2 linked regions of the Homo sapiens genome follow. The protein of the gene in region 1 interacts with the protein of each later gene in a pairwise test. Each region holds a gene or a part of one and is shown on either strand. Other genes may lie near its edges.

Region 1 (7,036 bases):
AAAATTCACCATTAGCCCTACACATAGCATGCTCTTGTTCAAAGGATGTGGATTCGAGTGTGAGAAAGACACGGACAGACACAATTTTCAGGCACCACTCAGCAATATGCTTCATAGGATAAGATGTCGCTACACCAGCTGGTACCCAGATCCTGATATTTGGTCATATTCTATTGTATACTGCCTGGTCCAGTCCACGATAACAGGACGAAAGAGGCCACAGCATCGAAATTCAAAGAAGTCTATAATATTTCTTACACATCCATGGCTAAAAACAGCACCCCAAAAAGAAAACACGTCAGTCAGTACAAATGATTTAATACATGAATTCAATATAATTTTCGTGTTAAATATATTTTTTTCTAAACTTAAAAACTCAGGTTACTTGCAAGAAGGAACCAATTCATAACTCTATAAAATATATATGCCTTCATGTTTCTCCACTGCTCTGCCAACAATGATTTTTTCTTTTGCCAATTTAAAGACTTACACAATTATATTTTAAATTTATTCAAATGTGCATATACTTTCTGTGTTATATGCATTTTTATTTTTATTTTTAGAGATGAGGTCTTAACTATGTTGCCCGGCCTGGCCTCGAACTCTGGGCTCAAGCAATCCTCTCACCTCAGCCTCCCAAGTAGCTAGGACTACAGACATGCACCAACATGCCTGGCTCCATATGTAATTTTTGATAAAAACCTTTAATTAGTGGCTCTTTGGCAGGAGACAAACTATCTCTAAAACAGAAAAAAAGTAAAAGACAAAATAATTATAAATAGCATGAATCTGGCAGTGAACCTAAGGATAACAACTTAAAAAAGAAATGTCAAGGATAAGTTCATGAAATTTTAGTACTCCAGTAACACCTTTAGAAAAGCAGTCAGTTTTGGCCAGGTGCGCACCAGTGGTTCACGTCGGTAAGTAATCCTAGCACTTTGGGAGGCCGAGGCGGGTGGATCATGAGGTCAGGAGTTCAGGACCAGCCTGGCCAAGATGGTGAAACCCCATCTCTACTAAAAATACAAAAACTAGCTGGGCGTGGTGCATGCCTGTAATCCCAGCTACTCAGGAGGCTGAGGCAGAGAAGTGCTTAAACCCAGGAGGTGGAGGTAGCAGTGAGCCGAGATCATGCCACTGCACTCCAGCCTGGGTGACAGAGCAAGACTCTGTCTAAAAAAAAGAAAAGAAAAGCAGTCAGTTTTGTGCCTTATATAATTTTTGTACCTATGGGAGAATTCTCAAAACTACCCAACTAACTCTGTTTTTATTTAAAGGTCTGCTTGCTTTCCAGAAGTATGCCATAATTGACAGCACCACAAAAGCTGAAGAGTTGGTAATAACTTCAGTAAAACTCAAAGTTTTAAATATTTCATATACTTAGGACCCTACTATTTCTAAGCACCAGACTGAATACAAATTTAAAATTAAAAAGAAAAAAATATAAGGAGATATCACAACTTTATTATATACAGTTAATGTGATGAATTCTGTTTTGTTGTTATTATGGTGAACTGATGCTATTTCTACAGAAATCTTAAAAAGGTTTAAAAGCTATTTTACATATCACTAAGTAAAAGAGTCTGGTTAGTAAGAAAATTTTTATGACCAGGTAAAATATTAAATTTATAAATATGTACATACTTGAATGGGCTTTCAATAGACGTTGTTGTGACTTTAAAGTGCTTGTATCTCCTGGCATTCATTCTTTCATTTGTAGTAATACCTAAACATGATATCTAAGAGGAAAGAAAAAGCAAACCATTATTCTTGTTTTTTTTTTTTTTTTTTGAGACAGGACCTTGCCCTGTCACCCAGGCTAAAATGCAATGGCGAATTCTCAGCTCCCTCTTGGGTGGGCTCAAGTGATTCCACCCCCGCCACCTCCCCCCACCCCAAAACCCCCACCCCACCAGCAGCTGGGATTACAGGCGCATGCACCATGCCCGGCTAATTTTCTTTTTTTTGTTGGGTTTTTTTTTTTTTTTTTTTTTTTAGAGATAGGGTTTAACCATGTTGCCCAGGCTGATCTCAAACTCCTGGGCTCAAGTGATCCGCCCACCTCGGCTTCCAAGTGCTGGGATTACAGGTGTGAGCCACCATGCCAGGCTGCACAAACCATTATTCTTTCTAAATACTTAATATAAAAAAATTAATTTGAAGAAAACTAGGATAAAGATAAAAACAATGAAGTCTGTTTTTGGTTTTCCATCAGGAGATCATCAGAACTAGTTTACGTGGTATCATTTGACTGTGAAAAGTAGCCAGTTAAATGTGGAAAATATTTAAAGACAGGTTACTTGACACTGTGCATGGACAGGCGCTATTCCTGCACAGACAACCTCCCTATCAGCCTCTCTGAGAATGAGCTTTTAAAAATTAAAAAAAGGCTTTTGAATAAATATTAGTATTTGTGAATAAAAATACCATTAAAAACACAAAATTAATGTCATCATCAATCTGAGCTCACACATACTCAACTGGATGTATTTAAGTCAGGAATAACAGATTAAAATTTCTGTTGAGATAAGTACTAAAATTCAAAAGTTCACAATATGAGAAGAGGAAGGGGCAAAAGAGTGAGGTAGAAAGGAAAACTAAATTGAAAAATAAAATGAATATTTGAAGAGCAGGAGTGGTTAGGAAGAGAATATATTATTATCTTTTATGCAAGGATGGAAGAGTTTTCACTTAGTGCACTAAAAAGAATGCCTTTGCACATACCTGGTACATCTGACACATGAGTAATACAGCCACCCACATGAAGTGGAAAACACTGTTCAGGAACATCCAAAACATCCAAGGTGAACACGTGGCAATCTGAGTAATGTATGTCCAAAATCCATCCTTGGTGTAAGTGGTCTCACAGTGGAGTCCCCAGTCTAAAGCCAGAACAGAAGTACTCGTATTTACTCAATAATCATCCAAGCACCTCATATAGGCATTTGTGCTGGCACCATTTAGAAAACATAGTCAAACAGTCTAGATTTAACTGATGACATTCAATAGCAAATGTCTTTATACTCTTAAATAACCCTATTATATCTCAGTGAAAAAACACAGAAATGGAAAAGGAGCAGCCAATCTTAAAAAAAAATCACTGTATCTTCAGAATTAACAATTTTATTTGATTGGTATTGCATCACATAATACTTAGAAAAACATTTTCTTTACACAAAGATGAGAGGATATATGAAAGAGATTTTTTTGAAAGAGGGCATATAACATAATAGGATGGTGACATGAGCTTTTTTTTCCAGACAAGGTCTCGCTCTGTCACCCAGGCTGGAGTGCAGTGGCTCAATCAAGGCTCACTGCAACCTCGACCTCCTGGACCCAAGCAATCCTCCCACCTCAGCCACCTGAGTAGCTGGGACTACAGGCATGCGCTACCACACCGGGCTAATTTTTGTATTTTTTGTAGAGATGGGGTCTCTCTTCCTACGTTGCCCAGGCTGGTCTCAAACTCCTGGCCTCAACTGGCCCACCTGCCTCTGCCTCCCAAAGTTTTGGGATTATAGGCAATGAGCCACCATGCCCAGCCAAGGTAGGCCTTTCCTAATACAAAATCTCCTGCTGTAGGAGAGTTGCTATAAAATACTGCTGTTGTTGGCAAGAAAGTATTCTCCTCAGGTGTGCTGGGCCAGAAATTAGGTCAAGTTCTTTGACCAAATCTTCCTATTAATCTTTAACTGAGGTGGTAACCTCCTTTGGTTCATTAGGGCAATAACACTGATTATTTTTACTATCTGTGGGGCAGGAAGACTAGAAAATCATCCTTCCAAGACTTGTATTTAAACGAGGATCTAATACATCTTTATGCCAAGCACCACCAAGCCCTGAGGCATCGTAAGTGACGTATCCACTTAAACTCTTTCCAGACTGCATTCTCAATGCAACAAAAATCTATCATTTCCTTTAAGGTATAAAACCCACATGATGGAATAACAACTTATTCTTAAAAAGGTAACTTCTGATATTTACTAATATTCTCTAATAGGCAATAATTATACCTTACTTTTCAAAATATTTCAAATTCTCTGCAAATTTAATTTTAAGTATATTTTCCCAACTGCTTGGTAAGAAACAGAACTAAGACAATCACTTAATCTATAAGCTACTATAGTAAAGCAAGCACATGATGTGGAAAATGTTGATGTATTTCACCCAGAAGCTTCTCAAAGCCTATTAAACCAATATGTTTTTCAGAGGACACAAGTATTAAAAGGTGGTTAACTGCTAACTGTTTGCTTACACTGTATATTGGACATAATTGATAGAGCTGTATCTTTTTTCCCTTTTGTGCTTCATAAGGTGTCCAAACCATAATTTTAGTTAAACGACCTTTGTCATTATAGTAATTTGTTAGTGTGGTAAGTATAATCTAAGTATGCAGAAATTTGTTTTAAAAAGACCGAAAACTAATTGTACTCACAAGATATACAACCATAAATCATCCAGCAGATCATAAAAAGCAAGAAGAATAGGTAGCCCATAAAATATCTATGGTTGCCTGCACCTGAAGAACGACACAGAAGCAAGGTTTTTCAGCTAAGAAAAAAACAACGGGTAATGCACCTTTGAGGGGTATGCCATGAAAGGTGTGCTACAGTTTTGATGATAATCACACATACATTCATTATTTTATAAAGTGGTTTTCAGGAAAAATGTTTTAATAAAAATCTTAAATAAGAATGCTTGCAATTACACACAAAGATATAATGATGACAATGGTGTTCAAGTCCCAAAGAACTAAATAAATCACAATTCTGACCTCTAATCCTATTCTTTGTGAGGTTTAAAATAGCCCTATTTTATCTTTACTTTTATAAACTTTACAATCCAAAGGTTTCTCTTCAACAGAGGTAAACAATCTTTGTAATGTTTCCTGTCACCTCATAAAATCTCCGGGGCATGTCTCAAACCATGTAGTTTCTCTCCTTAGACTATACCATTCTTGAACACTAATGTGTGTACTGTTCTTATCTGTCATTCCTCTCTACCTCTGCACATAATATCATTTCAAATATTACCGCCTTCATCTCTCTAGTTTAACTAGAAAAAAAAAATTTTGCCTCCTTATCAAGAGTAGGCACCAGATAGAACTGACAGAGAAAAGGTATCAGCCACTAATTTTGTAATTTTTTTCCCTCCCTCTCTCAACTGAGTTGCTGTGTTGTCAACCAGAAGATAACTGAGAAAATGAAGCGTGGAGTAATAAACTTTCTATTGCCTACTTTAATATTATACTTTATTCATTACCTAAAGTAACTTAAATGAATGATACAGAAGAAATTACTAATACAACTTACCTACACAGTTACCCACCCATGGGCAATGATGATCAAATTTTGCTATACAGCGGTTGCACACACCACAATGTTTGGACCTCACCGGTTTTCGTATCTGTTAATAGGCATGTTAAAGGATTATGAAAGGCATTATACTAAGAGAGAAAAGCTGACTATTTATTTTCTCAAAATATAATTATAAAAAAATAAAACTATATTTTTTAAACAAGATTATATCAAGGTTTCCAAATGAATGAAACCAAAAGTCACTATTGTTTAATAAAATTTCAACTGCAAAAACAAAGAATAAAAGAATGAGGCTACTCTAGAAAATATGCTCTTAAGAATGGAACTGAACCATCAATTTACAAAAGCTAAGAATTACCAATTTGATTTGATGAATGATGCTATGTTTAATTCACATCCCTCAAATTTCTGAGTAATAAAAACATATCAATCTCCAGTCTTCTAAATGATGTTCCATTATGATTAATGGTCATGATATTGGTGTTTTTCAATAAAATAAAATTATTCCTTACTAGGAAGGTCAGGCTAAAAGTGAATTTAAAAAGCTCTTAAAATTCAAAATCATCAATAAAATATTTGTCTTCCCCAAATTAACAAATCCAGCAAAAACCCATATGTACACATCTATTTCTCTTCAGTAAAGTGCCTTCTGAGATCTCAGATTAAGGTACAGCATTTCTCCTGCTGAAATGACCATATTTAAGAATGCAGAACATGCTTAAGAAGTCACTATTTCTTGCAAAAAAAAAAACCCCATATAATTCATTATTCAGCTATTGACAGGCAATAAAGAATCCATGCTTATGATGTCTGTTTTTCAAGCATTTTGAAATGGTTTTTAAAACCTACATTACTCTAAATCAGCCAAGTGAATACAAGAACTCATTGGTGATCTTCAAAGGGCTGGCAGTCCTAATGCTAGACATATGATAAAAGAGCTGCAGTTATTAACTCTTGCCAGAAAAAAATTTATAAATATACTTCAGCGTTTCAACAAAAGCACTGCCATTTCTCCATTAGTTTGCATAAAGTTACACACTATTTTGAGGTACCAAGGAAAAGGCACAGTGAATACACAGTTCTTACATCTACCAAAATTATCTGTGGAATAAAGAAAAGGGTAAGTTATTCTTCACCACAGTTGTTAGACTAAATCTACTTAGGAGAAGGCAGCAGGATATTCAAACAACTTCTATCCCCACTTCCAACCCTCAGCTGCAACACTGTCAAAAATCTGAAAAACAGACTAACTGGTTAAGGTGTGACTTGGTCTCAAGGTTCCTTGGATCACTTACAAAGTAATCCTTTCTTTTTTCTTTTTTTGAGACAGGGTTTCACTCTGTGGCCCAGGCTGGAGTGCAGGGGTGCAATCAACAAAGTAATTCGTTTTTAAGAAAGCTCTGATCTACAAGCCTTAGGGACTTGTCTACTTACCAAAGTGAAGCATACCCATATAATGACAACTACCTCTGCTGATCTGCAAGATTTTATAATAGGAAATCTTCTTTACAACAAGAAGTATGTGGCTTATAAATAATATATAATAAAACATTTATGCTATGATGACAAAATTAGTCTTATTCTTGCCATCAAATATGTATTTGACAATGAAACTGCTATCTGTATTGAATGACTATATAATTTGTTTGCCATATGGCAAGTACATCAGCACTGCATACTTTGTGGAACAGTATATTTCCACAGAACAGCAGTGTATT
Region 2 (7,036 bases), on another chromosome or scaffold:
CGTTGGGAGGCCGAGGTGGGTGGATCACTTGAGGTCAGGAGTTCAAGACCATCCTGGCCAACATGGCAAAACCCCGTCTCTACTAAAAATACATTAGTTAGCAAGGTGTTGGTGCATGCCTCTAATCCCAGCTACTTGGGTGGTTGAGGCATGAGAATCGATTGAACCCAGGAAGCGAAGGTTGCAGTGAGCCGAGATTGTACCACTGCACTCCAGTCTGGGTGACAACGTAAAACTCTGTCTCAAAAAAAAAAAAGAAAAAGAAAAGAAAAGAAACAGGGTCAGGCATGGTGGCTCATGCTTGTAATCCCAGCACTTTGGGAGGCCGAGGCAGGCGGATCACCTGAGGTCAGGAGTTCAAGACCAGCCTGGCCAACATGGTGAACCCCCATCTCTACTAAAAATACAAAAATTAGCTGGGCGTGGTGGCAGGCACCAGTAATCCCAGCTATTTGGGAGGCTGAGGCAGGAGAATCGGTTGAACCTAGGAGGCAGAGGTTGCAGTGAACTGAGACTGCATCACTGCACTCTAGCCTGGGCAACAGAGTGAGACTCCGTCTCAAAAAAAAAAAAAAAAAGAAGAAGAAACAAAAGTTTTTAAAAACAAACCAGGCATGGTGACATGCACCTGTAGTCCCAGCTACTCATGAGGCTGAGGTGGGGGGATCACTTGAACCTAGGAGGTCGAGGCTGCAGTGAGCCAAGATCATACCACTGTACTCCAACCTGGGTGACAGAGTGAGACCCTGACTCAAAAAGAGTATTTCTGTAGTGAAACCAATTAATATCTACAGCAAGTAATAAAGACTAAACATAGCTTCAGTTCAGGTTACATTTTATACCCTAATGAGTTGTGGCACCATTACAGCAAAAATAAAACAAAACTTTAGGAGTTTTTTAGATTTCTGAATGGCCAGCAGGGCTTAATGGCTCATGCCTGCAATCCCAGCACTTCTGGAGGCCAAGGTGGGTAGACTGCCTGAGCCCAAGGGTTCAAGACCAGCCTGGCCAACATGGTGAAACCTTGTCTCTACAAAAGATACAAAATTAGCTGGGTGTGGTGGCATGTGCCTGTAATCCCAGCTACTCAGGAGGCTGACGCTGGAGGATAGGTTGAGGCTGCAGTGAGCCATGACTGCCACTGCACTCCAGCCTGGGTAACAGAGCGAGACCCTGTCTCGAGAAAAAAAAAAAAAAAAAAGAGAAAGAAAAGAAAAAGTATTTCCAAATGGCAAATAAGGAACTCTGGACCTGACCTGGGTTGTTACTGCTACTGCTGGTATGAAGACTAGGCCTTACACATAGGACTAAGATCTCATGTCTACCTTTAAGAAGCTCATGTTATGGTTATTCATGTGACGAGCCTAACTGAAACACAGACTAGCAGATTAGAAAGATCAAGACACAGGCAAGAATGATAGGAACAGAGCTGAGGATAAGAGATATCATACTGGCCAAGGTCTCAATGGTGTAAGAAAGAAATAGGTGGAAGAAAGACAATTACAATCAGACATCTTTAACTGAGATAATACTTTCTTCTCTTAAGGGAACTGTTTTGTTACAGCAGCCCCTTGATTCCATCTCTCAAGAAGTGCCAGAAAAAAAAAAAGAAAGAAGTGCCAGTTGGGTGCAGTGGCTTAAGCCTGTAATCCCAGTGCTTTGGGAGGCTGAAGTGGGAGGATTTCTTGAGGCCAGGAGTTTGATACAAGCCTGGGCAACATAGCAAGACCCCTGTCTCTACAAAAAATTTCAAAAATTAGCTGGGCATGGTGGCACACACCTGTAATCCTAGCTACTTGGGAGGCTGATGTGGGTGGATTGCTTGAGCCCAGATGTTTGAGGCTACAGTGAGCTATGGTGGCACCACTGCATTCAAGCCCGGGAGACAGAGGGAGAGGCCATCTCTAAAAAAGTAATGCCTTCTCTTGATCCACTGAGAAAGGGTTCTACTGAGGTTAGAGGCTGAAGAATGCTGATTCAGGACCATACCCTACCTTGTTTCCCACCAGTCTTCAAGAAAAGCTTGCCTATGCTTGGCTGGGATACACAAAGAGACATAAAATTAATACTCTGTAGCTGCATTTCCCACTTTCTATGATATTAGACCATCTTAGGTCTAATTCAGTGCTCTTCCTATTTATCAACACGTGACTTAGAGCTGATCTTCCTCTAAGATTTTAGGGGAGACTTCTTTCTCCTTGTTCTCCTAACATCTGATCTCAAGAAAATTCATCTACTTCCTCTCTTCTGTACTCTTCCAAGAAGGTACATGGAACACAAGAGAAAGGTACAATTATGTTTGTAAAACATAGCTAAGAGTTTGTATCAAATAATCTGTACATTTTAACTTGTTTGCTTAAAGTAATCTGCTAAACTCTGATTGACAAGTCATAGTTATTAAAATATGAACTTTTGGCCGGGAGCAGTGGCTCACGCATGTAATCCCCGCACTTTGGGAGGCAGAGGCGGGCAGATCACCTGAGGTTAGGAGTTTGAGACCAGCCTGGCCAACACGGCGAAACCCTGTCTCTACTAAAAATATAAAAATTAGCTGAGTATGGTGGCACATATTTGTAATCCCAGCTACTTGGGAGGCTGAGGCAGGAGAATCACTTGAACCCGTGAGGTGGAAGTTGCAGTGAGCCGAGATCACACCACTGCACTCCAGCCTGGGTGACAGAGCGAGACTCCGTCTCAAAAAATACAGAACTTTCAGTTGGTCAACCAAGGTGTAAACAGGTCAACAGACTTGTGTTAGAATAGGAAGCCAATGGATAAGACTAGGAAGAACACTGTCAAACCTTTCCTCATGGCCAAAACAAACACTAAAGTTGACTGACAAGCAATTAATCTCTACTTTCTATAACAGAAATGGCATAAAAATGTTGTTTCATAAAAACACTTACTGAAAATATAAAAATATAACCGCTGTTGGTTTACAAGACCAGCTGAGAACTGGATGAAATATTAATGTCTAAGAACCTCTTTAAAAATGAATACATTGAGGCCGGGTGTGGTGGCTCACACCTGTAATCCCAGCACTTGAGGAGGTTAAGGCGGGCGGATCATGAGGTCAAGAGATCAAGACCATCCTGGCCAACATAGTGAAACCCCGTCTCTACTAAAAATACAAAAATTAGCTGGGTGTGGTGGCATGCGCCTGTAGTCCCAGCTACTCGGGAGGCTGAGGCAGGAGAAATCACTTGAACCCAGGAGACGGAGGTTGCAGTGAGCTGAGACTGCGCCACTGCATTCCAGCCTGGTAACAGAGTGAGACTCCGTCTCAAAAAAAAAAGGATACTTTGGCTGTGTGCAGTGGCTCATGCCTGTAATCCTAGCACTTTGGGAGGCCAAGGTGGGAGGATCTCTTGTGCCCAGGAAAGAGAGGCTGCAGTGAGCTGTGATCACGCCACTGCATTCCAGCCTCAGTAACAGAGACCCTGTCTCAGAAAAAAAACAAAACAAAACTTTCAGCAGTGAGTACAGTCATTCAATCTCCAGATACTGTCGTTTCTTTTTATACTCCACTCCAATCTGTCAACTCCTTAGTTTGGCATTCAAGTTCCTCTACTACCTACTTATATCTTACTTTCCACTTCTCATCTACATGAGTCACACAGCTCAGTTAAGTCAAGCTCCTTGTTAATCTTTATTTTGAACCTTTCATAGGAAATGCCCTCACTGTTCCTCCCTGTTCATCCAAATCCTTCTTATCACTCAAAGCCCAATCCACATCCTACCTCTTCTATAAGATGCTCTCCAACCCAACCTTTATCAGTTCTGTATACCTAGCCTTGGTCACTATCATATAATCTAACATTAGATTTAGCCTTGCTCACTATCATATAATCTAACATTAGATTTATGTATTTTTTATGTTTTGCCATTCTTTCCCAACTCTTCTACTCTTTTGGCCATCCCTCATGTGCCTACCACAAAATATATATTTTGTTAATACTCCTCCTTTGAAAGGAAAAGAAAATAACTCCATCCTGCTTTCCATCATCCAGATATACATTTCCCTATACTTCCTAACCTTTTCATGTATTACTACAAATTGAAATTGGACTTGATCCCAGGATTGGTCAAATGTAAGTCACAGTTTTCAGTGAACACGCAGTATTTACACAAAAAGCTTAATCTGCCTGAAGGAGAGACAACTTAGATTTATCTAATAGAGTTCCTCATTAAGCCCAGTCATACTTCTGACCTTAGCTGGTGGGAGAAGGTGGGGTACTCTCATTACTTATTTTGAAACCATCTTAATTTATCAACTCACCTATTACATGGGCAGACACAAAGGCCACAGCATTTGTTGAGTTCTGTTAAAGTCTTCTCTGTCTCTCTCATGTCCTTATTTATTTGGTCCAAGCCTTCTTCTATGCGGTTTAGTTGTTCTAAGAATAAGTTGTGAAGTTAACACTTTGTGTTCCATTCACAGTGTCAACCAGAAAATGCTATTATTATGGAACAGCAAACTTCAACCTTGAATCTACCAATAACTCCCCACAGTGAGTATGTCAGTGTCAAAAGGTATTAGAAGCGATTCAACATGATAACAATCTTTCACGTACTGATCCGGAGGCACCTAGCCTCTTGCTGTGGAAAAATTTGTTCTAAAAAGCTTGTATATGGCTGGGTATGGTGGCTCACGCCTGTGATCCCAGCACTTTGGGAGGCCGAGGTGGGCGATGACCTGAGGTCAGGAATTCAAGACCAGCCTGGCCAACATGGTGAAACCCCATCTCTACTAAAAATACAAAAATTAGCTGGGTGTGGTGATGGGTGCCGTAATCCTAGCTACCTGGGAGGCTGAGGCAGGAGAATTGCTTGAACCCGGCAGTTGGAGGTTGCAGTGAGCTGCGATTGCACCACTGAACTCCAGCCTGGATGACAGAGTGGGACTCCCGCTCGAAAAAAAAAAAAAAAAAAAGAATCTTGTATAGTAGGACCAAGGGACGGTTATTTAGAGATCATCCTTACAACCAAGTTAAGGGTACTTTGACGAGGTCAAATCCCCATCATTTCTATAATAGGTTCAAAACCTGAGGGCTATTATAAGAGTAATAAAAACTAGACCTGATTACTCAGGGCCAACTCAACTCAAGTGTTTCCAAGCATACCTGAATCTAGATCTGTTTTAGAACTTGATTTCTGAGGATGATGTAAGAATATCACAATGTCTGGCCAGACACGGTGGCTCACGCCTATAATCCCAGCACTTCGGGAGGCCGACGTGGGCGGATCAAGTGACTCTTGAAGTCAAGAGTTCGACATCAACCTGGCCAACATGGTGAAACCCTATCTCTACTAAAAACACAAAAAATTAGCTGGGTGTGGTGGTGGACACCTGTAATCCCAGCAACTCAGGAGGCTGAGCCAGGAGAATCACTTGAACGTGGGAGGTAGAGGATCCTGGAGTAAGCCACGATTGCACCACTGCACTCGAGCCTGGGTGACAGAGTAAGACTCCGACTCAAAAAATAAAAATTAAAAAAACAAAACAAAACAAAACAAAAGGCCCGGCACGGTGGCTCACACCTGTAATCCCAGCACTTTGGGAGGTCAAGGCGGGTGGATCACCTGAGGTTAGGAGTTCGAGACCAGCCTGGCCAACATGGTAAAACCCCGTCTCTACTAAAAATACAAAAACTTAGCCGGGTGTGGTGGTGGGCACCAGTAATCTCAGCTACTCAGGAAGCTGAGGCAGGAGAATCACTTGAACCCAGGAGGAGGAGGTTGCAGTGAGCCAAGATCACGCCATTGCACTCCAGCCTGGGCAAGAAGAGCGAAACTTCATCCCCCACCCCCAAAACTAGACAAAAATAGCGAAACTCCGTCCCCCACCCCAAAAAAAAAGAAAAACATAGTTGGGTGTGGTGGCAGGTGCCTGTAATCCCAGCTATGTTACTATCATAATGTCTAAGGCACATATAACCAATACACAAAATAAGCCATGCTGGCCTAACACATACTTGGTATATACAATTGGGCATTGTTGCCTGCCATCCCAAATAGACAGTGAACATGATATATAATTCAAATCAGAAGACAAGAAGTAAACATAACATTCTTATTTTACAAAGGGAAGGCTCTCCCAAAGGCTGAAATTTGTATGTGGCTAATTTGATAGGGCTTTTTGGCATCACAGTCAAATTAAGAATTTCTGCTAATAATTTAACTTACCCTTTTGTTCATCCAGCATAGTGATGGTCTTGATTCCTGCATCCTGAGACTAAGACAAGGGGGGAAAAGCTGATAGTACAACAAAACAAACCAAAAACAACAGAAACAAAACCTACAAGAGCAACACAGAATAATTTAGAAACCCAAGCTCTCAGAGGATTAGAGCTACAGACAGAACTAGTATTCTTAAACTAACACACTTTAACATAGCAGCCCCCAAAATAATTAAGTCACAAACTCATAGTGAATTCATCTTCCCTGTCATATTCCAATACTGTTAAAGGGAAAAACAGAAAATTCCCATTAGTGCATGGTTTGACATTTCAGCAACTGTTAATTTCAAATAATAAAGCATATTGATACATTACCCTTTAATACTAATTCCAGCCAGAAGTATTAGGATCGCTCCTATAAATTTCTATACTTAAGTTGATGACTAACATTTTCTTACCTCAATGGCTAAACCCAGGATTCTCCTCGTACTTTCCAGAGACTAGGAAAGAACACAGAATTTTAGCATTCCAAAATATGTAGAAAAAAAAATCTGATCACAGGCCAAATTCATGATGCTATTCTATCTTTAAAAATTGCCAGCTCAGGCCGGGCACAGTGGCTCATGCCTATAATCCCAGCACTTTGGGAGGCCGAGGCAGGAGGATTTCTTGAGTACCGGAGCTCAAGACCAGCCCAGACAACATAGTGAGACTGTTTCCATTAAAGGAAAAAACAAAAAGAATTGCCAGCCTATCCTTCCCTTTAAAACAAAACAATGGCCGGGTGTGGTGGTTCAAGCCTATAATCCCAGCACTTTGGGAGGCTGAGGTGGGCGGATCACGAGGTCAGAAGTTTG

The links.
Region 2: the proteins of ZDHHC17 (region 1) and SNAP23 interact in binary tests that used the Homo sapiens proteins (3 or more experiments, as listed by UniProt).

The regions. Positions count from the first base shown.
Region 1 is NC_000012.12:76,844,079-76,851,114, reverse strand, and holds part of ZDHHC17 (palmitoyltransferase ZDHHC17), read right to left. Parts: intron 5,407-7,036; coding exon 5,313-5,406; intron 4,520-5,312; coding exon 4,436-4,519; intron 2,883-4,435; coding exon 2,725-2,882; intron 1,740-2,724; coding exon 1,645-1,739; intron 269-1,644; coding exon 130-268; 3' UTR 1-129. UniProt on the Homo sapiens protein: Palmitoyltransferase that catalyzes the addition of palmitate onto various protein substrates and is involved in a variety of cellular processes.
Region 2 is NC_000015.10:42,512,598-42,519,633, reverse strand, and holds part of SNAP23 (synaptosomal-associated protein 23), read right to left. Parts: intron 6,680-7,036; coding exon 6,638-6,679; intron 6,236-6,637; coding exon 6,187-6,235; intron 4,398-6,186; coding exon 4,280-4,397; intron 1-4,279. UniProt on the Homo sapiens protein: Essential component of the high affinity receptor for the general membrane fusion machinery and an important regulator of transport vesicle docking and fusion.